3 linked regions of the Homo sapiens genome follow. The protein of the gene in region 1 purifies or fractionates together with the protein of each later gene. This does not show direct contact. Each region holds a gene or a part of one and is shown on either strand. Other genes may lie near its edges.

Evidence for each region.
Region 2: the proteins of TSEN15 (region 1) and TSEN2 purify together in Homo sapiens (affinity purification with mass spectrometry; 5 studies listed by BioGRID and IntAct, with this or other methods). This does not show direct contact.
Region 3: the proteins of TSEN15 (region 1) and CLP1 purify together in Homo sapiens (affinity purification with mass spectrometry; 5 studies listed by BioGRID and IntAct, with this or other methods). This does not show direct contact.

Annotation. Positions count from the first base shown.
Region 1 is NC_000001.11:184,068,639-184,072,389, forward strand, and holds part of TSEN15 (tRNA-splicing endonuclease subunit Sen15), read left to right. Parts: intron 1-1,977; exon of another isoform or gene 1,978-2,094; intron 2,095-3,518; coding exon 3,519-3,660; coding exon of another isoform or gene 3,661-3,672; intron 3,673-3,751. UniProt on the Homo sapiens protein: Non-catalytic subunit of the tRNA-splicing endonuclease complex, a complex responsible for identification and cleavage of the splice sites in pre-tRNA. It cleaves pre-tRNA at the 5' and 3' splice sites to release the intron.
Region 2 is NC_000003.12:12,482,429-12,486,179, reverse strand, and holds the start of TSEN2 (tRNA-splicing endonuclease subunit Sen2), read right to left. Parts: upstream 1,701-3,751; 5' UTR 1,300-1,700; exon of another isoform or gene 989-1,299; intron 1-988.
Region 3 is NC_000011.10:57,655,829-57,659,579, forward strand, and holds the start of CLP1 (polyribonucleotide 5'-hydroxyl-kinase Clp1), read left to right. Parts: upstream 1-1,933; 5' UTR 1,934-2,032; intron 2,033-3,626; 5' UTR 3,627-3,648; coding exon 3,649-3,751. UniProt on the Homo sapiens protein: Polynucleotide kinase that can phosphorylate the 5'-hydroxyl groups of double-stranded RNA (dsRNA), single-stranded RNA (ssRNA), double-stranded DNA (dsDNA) and double-stranded DNA:RNA hybrids. dsRNA is phosphorylated more efficiently than dsDNA, and the RNA component of a DNA:RNA hybrid is phosphorylated more efficiently than the DNA component.

The sequences.
Region 1 (3,751 bases):
ATTGGCATGAATTTCAAGGAGGTGGTCTGTTATCCCTGAAACTTTTCTTTGGGACTGAGCCTGTGGATGAATAAGGCTTCTTTGGTGCCTCTGACACCAACTTAATTTTGCATTATGTTTCAGAGTTGCATTATGGCATGTCATTCCATTATATCATAATGAGGCAAATCAAGGAATTATTCCCTTTTACTAATAAGGCTATAGCATATATTATTTGGCCACATTGAAGAGGATAGGAGATACTTTCTATGGGTTGAAATTAATACTACTTTTAACCCATGATACATTCTATTTCAATAGCATTTGAAGTTAAAAGTAATGCGGTCTTCAACTTCTTGTCCTCTGTGTAAATCTCCAGAGATTACTTAGTATCTGTTTCAGAATCATTACAGAAAAATCAATGCTAAGATTTATGGAAAGCATTTAAATAGCTTGGACTAAAGGTATTAGCCAAATAGTGTTAACTGTGTATTTGCTTCAGGCTTGTTTTCAAGTTAGCTATATGAAGCTCTGGAATCACTTTTTTTCAGTACACAGAGCTCCTCTATGAACAGTTATGAGAAATAAAAACCTGTTGTGAGCATCAAATTTTGTTGCTGTTATTAAATAGCTATTATTATTGATACATATTTTTCTTTAGGTGGGATTTTTCCCTTTAGATATAACTGAGTTTAAAACTTGAAACTGTTAGTATTAATACATAGGTTATATTTTTCATAGGTTGATTTCTATCCAATATGAACTATAAAGAATTTTATCGTTTATTGTTGTAGATTTGTGTGATGAAACATACAATATTTCCAGTATCTTCACAATATTTTTCCAAAGAACTGAGCTATTAAAATTTATACATATAAGGAAACATTCTGTCATTTCTAAAGTGAGATTTCAAACCATAAGCTTGTTAGAAATTAAGTGAGATTATAGTATTCTGGTGATACTTAAATGTTCTTGGGATCTTTACAATCATATGTGGTTTTTTAAGAACTTAAGAATCTTTTGTTACTGCTATTATTAATAGATTGGGAAAATATAATCTGTTGACTAAAAGGCAAAATAAACATTTTTAAGATTTTATGCAGTATCCTATAATGGAAACAAACAAGAAAGGTCTTGTTCTTGTTTGTTGAGGAAAAGATGATGGCTTTGCTTTAAACATACTTGAAAAATCGACTAGAAGAGATCCTGAACAAGAAACTGTAAGACTTCTGGAATGTACCTTGAGTAACAGAGGCAGATAAACTATTTTATTCTGTTACTAGTGAGAAGATTCACTGGTAATTCACAATCACCGCCCCCTCCAACCAAATACCATAAACAAGGCCTCAGAAATGGGAACTTCCATTTCATTTTTGACAGTGATTTCTCTCAACTCTGAAAACAAAACCCCTTTTACAACTCTGAGTTAGTTTTCAAATGTTAGGGTTTCCTGCATGGGTATTTGGGGTAAGTATGAAAATGTTTTGCTGCTTAAATCAAAGAACTCTGGAAACAGATATAAATTGAGAATGGAAAAAGAGTAGTGAATAAGATGGAAATTTCTATTCTAAATTTCACTATATGGGCTACAATTCCCATATAGTTTTCCTTAGTGAACACCACCCCCCAACACACACATACAAACACACCTTCTGATTTAAATAACATTATATCTTCAGAAATGGAAAATGTGTTAAAGTTGTGTTAACAGGCTTCCTTCTTGTCTGTGTCCCATTCTCATCACAGTCTACCAGTTAGGGATGTTTAGAGAAATTTATCTTGTGGCATTGAAGTGGCTTTATGTGCATTATATATTGGGTTTTATGTATATTGCATACTGTGAAGTAATCATGATACATGCTGACAACAAAAGATGTAGATAAGTTAAAATTTTAGTTGATCCATTGTCTGTTTCTTCTTTGCCATCTTTGTAGAAAAAAATTAATTCAAGATGGACAGCCTATAAAAATGTATCTTTTTCTATTATTATTAATTTAGATATTGGCGTGCCACTTTTGAAGAAGGAAAATACTTAGCTACATTAAAAGATTTGCATTGAAGAAGCAATTGTGATATGCTGCCTTTTATCACAGTGTGACTTCCCATCAGTGCTGAGTAATGAAGTTTCTGATTAATATCTATCGTTGCTTTATCAGAATATCTTTCTCTAAAGTAAATCATTCTTGTGAATAAGAATCTAGCTAGTTGTAATGCAGTTCAGCATAGGTGGAAATAATTTTTTAAGGACTAAGTCAATTTCTGGGATTCAGACTGTTTCAGAAAAGAAACATTTTCTGTATTTCCACTAATGGCACAGTGTACCTTAGTATGTTTGGGTTAGTATTCAGTTTTAGCAATAATCATGGAGGCAGGGGTATCTATAAATATTATATCCCAATTTGCAAGGTAGCAAAGTTGTATATATACTACATAATATGACCACTTGACAGTTTATGAAGTCTTTTCATATATGCCATTTAATTGATTCATATAATAATCTTATGTGTAAACATAAAGGTGTACTACTATCTTCATTTCAAGTATCCTTGAAAAGACTTTCTCCATTGAATTGCCTTTGTACCTTTGTCAAAAATCAACTGACCAGCCTTATAGCACGTTAAGAAGTAACTTATATGATGTTATTAACACAAAGGATGGGGGAAGGAATGAAGCTATATTGGAGTAAACAATGACACCAGACAGTTATGTGAAGAAATGAAGAATACCAGGAATATTAAATATGTGAATGTAAAAGACCCTAATATATTTTCCTTTCTCCTCTTAACTTTATAAAAAGAAAATTATTTAAAGTAATAATTACAACACTATATTACTGGGTTTAAATATATAAACATATATGACAATAATAGCATAAAGGTGGAGGAAAGGAATAAAGCTCTATTGGAGCAATTTCTATATTTTTTAGAATCAAGTTAGTATTAAGCTGAGAGAAATTGTGATAAACTAAGACGCAATAGTAATCTCTAGAGTCATCACTACGAAACTCAAGAAACTATAGTAAAAAAAAATACATTAATTAAAATGGTGTACTAGAAAATACCTATTTAATAGAAAAGAAGGTGATAAAGGAGGGTGAGAGGAAGTAAAAAGACATGTGATATATAGAAAACAAATAGCTAAATGGCAGGCATGAATCCAACCATACCAATGTTAATTTTAAATTTGAATAAACACTCAAAAGGGCAGAGATTGTCAGATTGGATATAAAAACAAGATCCAACTATATGCTATCTACAAAAGATACACTTCAGATTCAGAGACAACAATTTTGGAAAACTGTCAACTATTTCTATACCATTCTCTTTCCTTTCCTTCTGTGATTCCAATTATGTGTAATGTTGAACTTATTTGATACTATACCAGAAGACTCTGATGTTATTTTTTAAAATTATTTTTTCTCTTTTTACTTCAGTTTGGTTTCTTGTGACCTGTTTTCAAGTTTTCTAGTGCTTTCTTCTGTCACATCTCATCTAATTGAGTGACCGCAACTCCTAAGTATATTGTGACTTTATTTTCAGGATAAGGGAGATCTTGAAGGCATCTCGAAAGTTGCAAGGTGATCCAGATTTGCCGATGTCTTTTACTTTGGCCATAGTGGAGTCTGATTCTACAATAGTCTATTATAAACTTACTGATGGATTTATGCTGCCAGACCCTCAGGTCAGTTTTGAGGTAACTGACAGCAAGAAGTACAAAAAGAGGAAAATTATGACGTGATTTTAAGTGTGACTCAAGTCAGTCACAGAACTGC
Region 2 (3,751 bases), on another chromosome or scaffold:
ACTCACTGCATGTGCTGCACATGTGGGTACTATAGTCATCCCTTGGTATCCACAGAAGGACTGGTTCCAGGACTCACCCCCTACCAAAATCCGCAGCTCAAGTCCCTTAAATAAAATGTAGTATTTGCATGTAACTTATGCCCATCCTCCCATCTACTTTAAGTCTTCTCTAGATTACTTAGAATACCTAATACAATGTAAATACTAAATAATTGTTATATATATATATTTTTAAATTTCTTTTTCCAAATATTTTTGATGCAACATTGGTTGAATCCACAGATTCGGAACCTGATAGCGAGAGCTGACTGTACTATCCTCATTCCACAGATATGAAAGAAGAGCGGTGCCTGAGGTGCACAAAAACATATAGGAAAGACTGGGTCAGTTGTCAAGAGGTTTGGGATGCAAAGGTTGGTTTGGAATTGGAGTCACTGCAGGTTATTTAGAATGATGATTGAAAAATGCAGATTAAGAAAATTAAACCTGGGAGTGGTACATCACACAGTGGCCCTCAAGCTTACCTACCCTTAACTCCTCATGCCCAGGCCTCACCTGCAATCAATTACATCAGAATTTCCTGGGTGGACCCAGCTGATTTTAACATATAGCTAACCACTGGTAACAGCAAGGTCTATTCAAATTCACTTAATCCCAGTAGCCCCCGGAGGTAAAGACTATTTTTATTTCCATTGTACAGATGTGGAAAGTGACTCGGAGGGGCCGGGCGCACCCCTGAGAAATCTTTACTTCTTATTTCCCCAACCTGCGCAACCTGACTCCAGAGCTGCATATTCTTACTTTCTATTAAAAGCAGAGTCTGTTTCTTATTCTTCCCTCGAGCACACAGGCTAACACCTCTTAGGTGATGGTAAATGTCTATTAGAAAAACAAAAAAGGGAGAGGTGGCTCCATTTAATTTTCCAACCTTCCTGGACTAGGTGCCAAACAAACCTGGTTAAAAAACCTCCTACCCAGCAAATCTCACCTTCTCCCAACCAAAACACGCTTCAAGCTCCATCTGCGCACCTCCTGGGCTTAGGGAGGCAAGGATGAAAGGCACAAGGTAAACAATCCTGCCTCTGGGGAGCTTTCAAGTTAGAACCTGAGAATAAGCCATATAAACAGATGACCAGCCTTTGAAAGTTGTTGTCAGGATTAAATGCATAATTTTGCAGAAGGCGTTTCGTTCGGGGCCTACCACGTGGAAAGCGCTCACCAGACGACAGCTGCAAATAAAATAAACTGCGCACCCCAACAGCGTTAGGGGCCCCGCCAATTCCTAACTCCCTGTCTTACCCCTTTGCTTCTTTCCTTGACTACCCCCACACCCGACCGAACTCCACCAGAGGCTGCGGCTCCTCTCGGGCATTGTCAGCTGCACCTTGCGCCCCAGCCCCACCAGCCCTGAACAAGGCGCCGGCGTTTCCAAGAACCAAGGGCTGCAGGCGCACGAGGAAAGCGCGGAGGAGTCAGTGACCGGGCGCACTCGGAAGCCTGGCTCCCCGTCCCGGCACTGTCTCGGCCGGCTGTGCGACCCCAGCACAGTACCTAGGCCCTTTCCTCTCTCGCCCTGGAGGACTTTCGGAAGAGCGAGATTTCCTTTCGCTGCAAAACACCAAACTCGGAAAGGGCCGCGCTTTCCTCGCCCAGGGCCCTTACCTTTCTTGGCCCCACGCGCTCGCCGTTACCCCGGCAACGCCGGCCGTGGGGCGGACACCGCTGCCGTCAAGCAGTGCGGCCGCAAAGCCAGCCGAGTGCGCAGCCGCAGAGCTCCCGTCGGGACTTGGCGGAGTGCGCCTGCGCACGGCCGGCTGGCGGGTGTTCTGTGCGCCAGCTCTGCCACTGCGGAGTATGAGGCGGAGGCTGCGTGCGCGCTTTGCTGCTCTCTGCAGGATTGTACGGAAGCCAGAACGATCCTGCAAGACGCATTTTACAGATGAGATGCAGTTACCCGTCAAATGTCACATAGTCACGTGGGAGGTGGGAGAGACCTAGAATCTTCGGCCCTCGGTGGATGGGATGTTTGAGGCGACCGACAGGACTTTATTAAATGGCCCTGAGGAAACTGATCTCATCTTTCTCAATGTAGAAAGAGGATCACAGCAGCGCACCTGTGTACGCTGCAGCATGCGGGGAACTTGCAAGGACGTTTTCTCTGGCAGACACCTGGCCAGAAGCCTCTGTGTGCCCAGACTGCCTGTGCAGTTAAGGGACAATAGGCGGCAGGTCCACCTGCTCTGCATCCCCATTTTCCCCCCTCACTGGCTGCGTGAGCTTGAATGACTGACAACCTTTCTGAGCTTGAGTTTACTGAAAAATGGGCCATCAGAATTACGGGAGATGAGCAAAACTGGAGTGCAATAGGAAGTGTAAGTTTCTCCTGACCTGGTTATTTTAAAGGAGCCCTGTGGGGAGTCCAATATATACTTTCCCAAATATGAATCACAGGAGTTCCACCACACAGACTAAGCAGGAGGCAAAGGAGGATGGCAAGGAAGTGTGGCAAATACTGCTGGAGAGATTCATGGTGCTAGATGTGATGATGGATGTTGAATTTTGGACTTCTGCCAATGTTCTTGCCTCCATTCCTTCACGCATGCTGTTGCCTCTATGTTCCCTCCCCTCTGTTAGCTGCAGTAATTCCTGGTCAGCCTTTAGGTCTCAGCTCAAATATCACCTCTTCCAGGAGACTTCTTGCCTTCCCAGACCTGCTTGGGTGACTTGCCTCTGTGCTCTGCAGTAGTCTGGCATGGCATGTGTTGTCCCTGTTTTTCTGGCCCTTTTTATTTTTTGAGACGGAGCCTGGCTCTGTCGCCCAGGCTGGAATGCAGTGGCACCATCTCAGCTCACTTACCTCACTGCAATCTCTGCCTCCCAGGTTCAGGTGATTCTCCTGCCTCAGCCTCCCGAGTAGCTCGGATTACAGGCGCCTGCCACCACGCCCGGCTGATTGTTATATTTTTAGTAGAAACGGGGTTTCACCACGTTGGCCAGGCTGGTCTCAAACTCCTGACCTCAAGCGATCCTCCCGCCTCGGCCTCCCAAAGTGCTGGGATTACAGGCTTGAGCCACTGCATCCTGCCTGGCCCTTTTTGAACTGCACTGTGGGCTTGCTCTTGGTAGAGTGAGATCATGTCGCAGCATTCAGTGGGTCCTCTGCTGCAAGGACCTTCACTGCTAGGCTAGGGAGTTCAGGTTTTAGATAAACCAAAATCAAAGAGCTTTGTGGTAAGAATGTTGCAAAAGAAAGGGAGAAAATTGGCAAGAGTCACAGGATATGGTAACAGGATGGATTGGGCAGGGGAGAGACAGCTGAAGAGAGGCTGTAATATCCGACCAGAACATGCCAATTTAAGAAATACTGGTTTTAGAATTAGAGGGCTTTAACAATGAAAGGGATTCAGAGGTTGTCCAGTTAAACTTCCTTATTTAACTGATAAGAAAACAGTTCCAGTGGCACTGTGAGTTGTCAGAGATAACCGAGCAGGTCTGAGGTGGGGCTGAGACTAGAGCCAGGTCTCTTAAATCCCATCCCAGCTCGTGGAAGGATTTGGGGTTTGCTGATAATGGGATCTCAAATTCCCCTCCCAAAAACATAAAAAAAGAAATTAAAAAAAGAAAAAAAATCTGTAAATTTTAAAAAAGAAAGAAATTTTCCCCAAGACTTTCTCAAGTGCATTTTAAACCCTTTGATATGGTTATTTTCAAACATACAACACAAAAGTAGAGAAAACAGTCCAATAAATCA
Region 3 (3,751 bases), on another chromosome or scaffold:
TGTTTTTGTTTTTTTGAGACAGAGTCTCGCGCTGTCGCCCAGGCTGGAGTGCAGTGGCAGGATCTCAGCTCACTGCAAGCTCCGCCTCCCGGGGTCAGGCCATTCTCCTGCCTCAGCCTCCCTAGTAGCTGGGACTACAGGCGCCTGCCACCACGCCCAGCTAATTTTTTTGTATTTTTAGTCGAGACGGGGTTTCACTATGTTAGCCAGGATGGTCTCGATCTCCTGACCTCGTGATCCACCCACCTCGGCCTCCCAAAGTGCTGGGATTACAGGCGTGAGCCACCACGCCCTGCCTTAAATGTGATTTTTTTTGTGAGACAGAGTCTCACTCTGTTGCCTAGGCTGGTGTGCAGTGGCGTGATCTCAGTTCACTGCAACCTCCGCCTCCCCGGTTCAAGCGATTCTCCTGCCTCAGCCTCCCAAGTAGCCGGGATTACAGGCGCCCGCCACCACGCCTAGCTAATTTTTGTATTTTTAGTATAGATGGGGTTTCACCATGTTGGTCAGGCTGGTCTCGAACTCCTGACCTCAGGTGATCCGCCCGTCTCGGCCTCCCAAAGTGCTGAGACTGCAGGCGTGAGCCACCGCGCCTGGCCTAAATGTTTACTATTATTATAACCGGACTCAGAAACTCTGGGTTTGAGTCCTAGCTCTACCAATGGCTGTTAATGTTTGGGCAAACCTCTGCACCTATCTGAGTCTCCTCCCCCATCTGAAATTGGATATAATAAAGCTGTCTTTACAGGGTGGCTGTGAAAGAAGATGCCTGAAAGGGATCTGAAAAATGTTAAGTATTGCACGAATGAATGATATTATAGCCCCTTCCGCCCCAGCCTATAATAAAAACGTAAAAGCTGATATCAGATTTTTTTCTATATTACAGGCATTGTACTTAGTACTTTACAGGCACATTCCTGCAATCGTCAAAACAACTTTAGGAGGTTGGGCACTGTTATTATCCCAACTTTGCAGACAAAAAACGATATCACGCTTGAGCCCAGGAGGTCGAGGCTGCAGTGAGCCATGTTCGCGGCACTGTACTCCAACCTGGGCGAGAGAGTGAGACCCTGTCTCAAAAACAAAAAGAAAAAAAAAAACGATCTCAGAGAGATGAAGCCTGTGATTTGCTCAAAGTCACACAGTAATGTAAGCAGTATAGCAAATAATATAAGATTCCAAAGCCCAAGGTAGTAAAAAGAGGATTATAGACGTGGTGGAACCTGTTGGCTGCGGGGCAAATGACTGACCTGTAACTGTCAGGGATTTATGGAGGGAAATGAGTGCCTAACAAAAATCCTCGTTTAGTGGGAGAGAGGTTGTTGGGTAATGACTGACTTGTAGCTGGAAGAAATCATCGGATTTTTATTCTTTTATTAAAGAAAAAAAATTTGAAATGCCTTCCATGTGCCAAGCACTGTGTCAGGTGGGAGATGACAGCTTGGTGAAACCTCTGTCAGGCTGTCTTCCTCCGCTTTCTCTATCCCTGGGTTTCCCCCTGCCTAAAAAGGATTTTGTGCTTCGTGGCTTGTCCAGGCAAGCAGGCCGTCGCGGGACCTAGACCGAGACAGTGAGTCTCTCTTTCTCCCGGGCCTCCCTTCTGTTTCCTGGGCTGCAGGGGAGCAGGAAATCTGGGGCGAGATTCCCGCCGCGGACGCGCACTGCCGAAGCCTGGTCCCTCGACCTGTCCCTGCCCAGCGCGGGGGCGCAACCGCCACGCCTCCTCACCCCTCCCTCCGGCTGCACGAATAATGACAACAGCCGCCCCTCCCACCTTTGGCGTCACGTTCAAAACAATCCTTTGACTACAACTCCCAGAAGGCCGAGCGGCTTAGCGAGTGCACCCGCTCTCGGCTGCTCCGGCAAACTACACATCCCAAAGGGCAGCGCGCGACCGCGTGTCCTTTCACAGCGCAAGTGCGGAACTGCGTTTGTTTCCGGCGTGGGTCCGGGCAAGAACCGCTTGTAGTTTGGTTTAAATTCTGCACGGGAGGACCTTCTGAGTTTACCTGTTGGGCTCCTGGCTGCGCAGGTGAGTTAAAAAAAGGGCAGGAACACAACTGTCACCTCCTTGGGGTCTGGGGACATTTTGGTGTCTGGGGAGATTTTGGTGTCTTGGGGAGATTTTGGTGTCTGGGAAGGTTGGGACAAATGCTGGAGCTAGAGCTGCAGTCCAGGATCAGAAATAATTCATATCGTTTCCTTGCCGTTTTCTAGTTTACGAAGTGCTTTTTTTTCCTCCCACAATTCCTGTAAACCCCAAGAACAACACTGTATTTGAGGAAGTGTAAGTGCTTCCAGTCGACAGCTTCAAAGGTTCAGAGAAGTTAAGTGATTGTCTAAAGACACTACTAGTAGTTACAGAGACGAGGATTAGGCTGTTTTCTGAGTTCAGACCCGGTGTGCTCTGCTTTGCATCCGTATTTCAGACGCCCTTTCCTGTTGACTAGGATGATTGGGGTCAGGGCATCTGTTACCTTCTCAAGTTTGGAGTTTACCAATAGAGTGATGGAGGGTGATATAATTAAATCTTCTGTCAGTCTGTAGGTATGGTTTTTCTCTGATGTCTGAGACATTAATTCACTCAATGTATTGAGGTGCCTACAGTCTGTCAAGCTGTATTCTAAGCAGTATATAGTATCAAACAAAAATGCCTAAGTCTTACATTTTGGGGTGGAGGAGGCGGGGAAGACACAATATATAGTGAGACCGATGGTGATAAGAAATATGGAGAGAATTAAAGCAAGGTAAGGGGAAACATTCATTGTATGTTTTTATTATTTATTTATTTATTTGTTTATTTTATTTTATTTTTTTTTGAGACAGAGCCTTGGTCTGTCACCCAGGCGGGAGTACAGTGGCATGATCTCGCCTCACTGCAACCCTGCAACCTCCACCTCCTGGGTTCAAGCGATTCTCCTGACTCAGTCTCCTGAGTAGCTGGGACTACAGGCGCCCACCATTATGCCTGGCTAATTTTTGTATTTTTTAGTAAATACTGAGATTTCACCATGTTGGCCAAGCTGGTCTTGAACTCCTGACCTCAGGTGATCCACCCACCTTGGCCTCCCAAAGTGCTGGGATTACAGGCGTGAGCCACCAGGCCTGGCCAATATTTGCATTTTTTCTACAGACGGGGTTTCACCATGTTGCCCAGGCTGGTCTTGTACTTCTGAGCTCAGGGGATCTGCCCAACTCAGCGCCCCAAAGTGCTGAAATTACAGGCCTAAGCCACTGTGCCTGGCCCATTGGATGATTTTTTTTTTTTTTTTTGAGATGGAGTCTTGCTCTGTTGCCCAGGCTAGCATGCAGTGGCACAATCTCGGGTCACTGCAGCCTCTGCCACCTGGGTTCAAGCGATTCTCCTGCCTTGGCCTCCCAAAGAGCTGGGATTACAGGCACCCTCCACCATGCCCGGCTAATTTTTTTTTTGTATGTTTAGTAGAGACAGGGTTTCACCATGTTGGCCAGGCTAGTCTTGAACTCCTGACCTCAAGTGATCCAGCCACCTCGGCTTCCCAAAGTGCTGGGATTACAGGCGTGAGCCACCATGCCTGGCCCCATTGGATGTTTTTGTAACAGAAGACTGACTTATAATTAGATCTGATATTTAATTTGTGTTCTAGGCACAGCAGCTACACAGAAGAGATGGGAGAAGAGGCTAATGATGACAAGAAGCCAACCACTAAATTTGAACTAGAGCGAGAAACAGAACTTCGCTTTGAGGTGGAGGCATCTCAGTCAGTTCAGT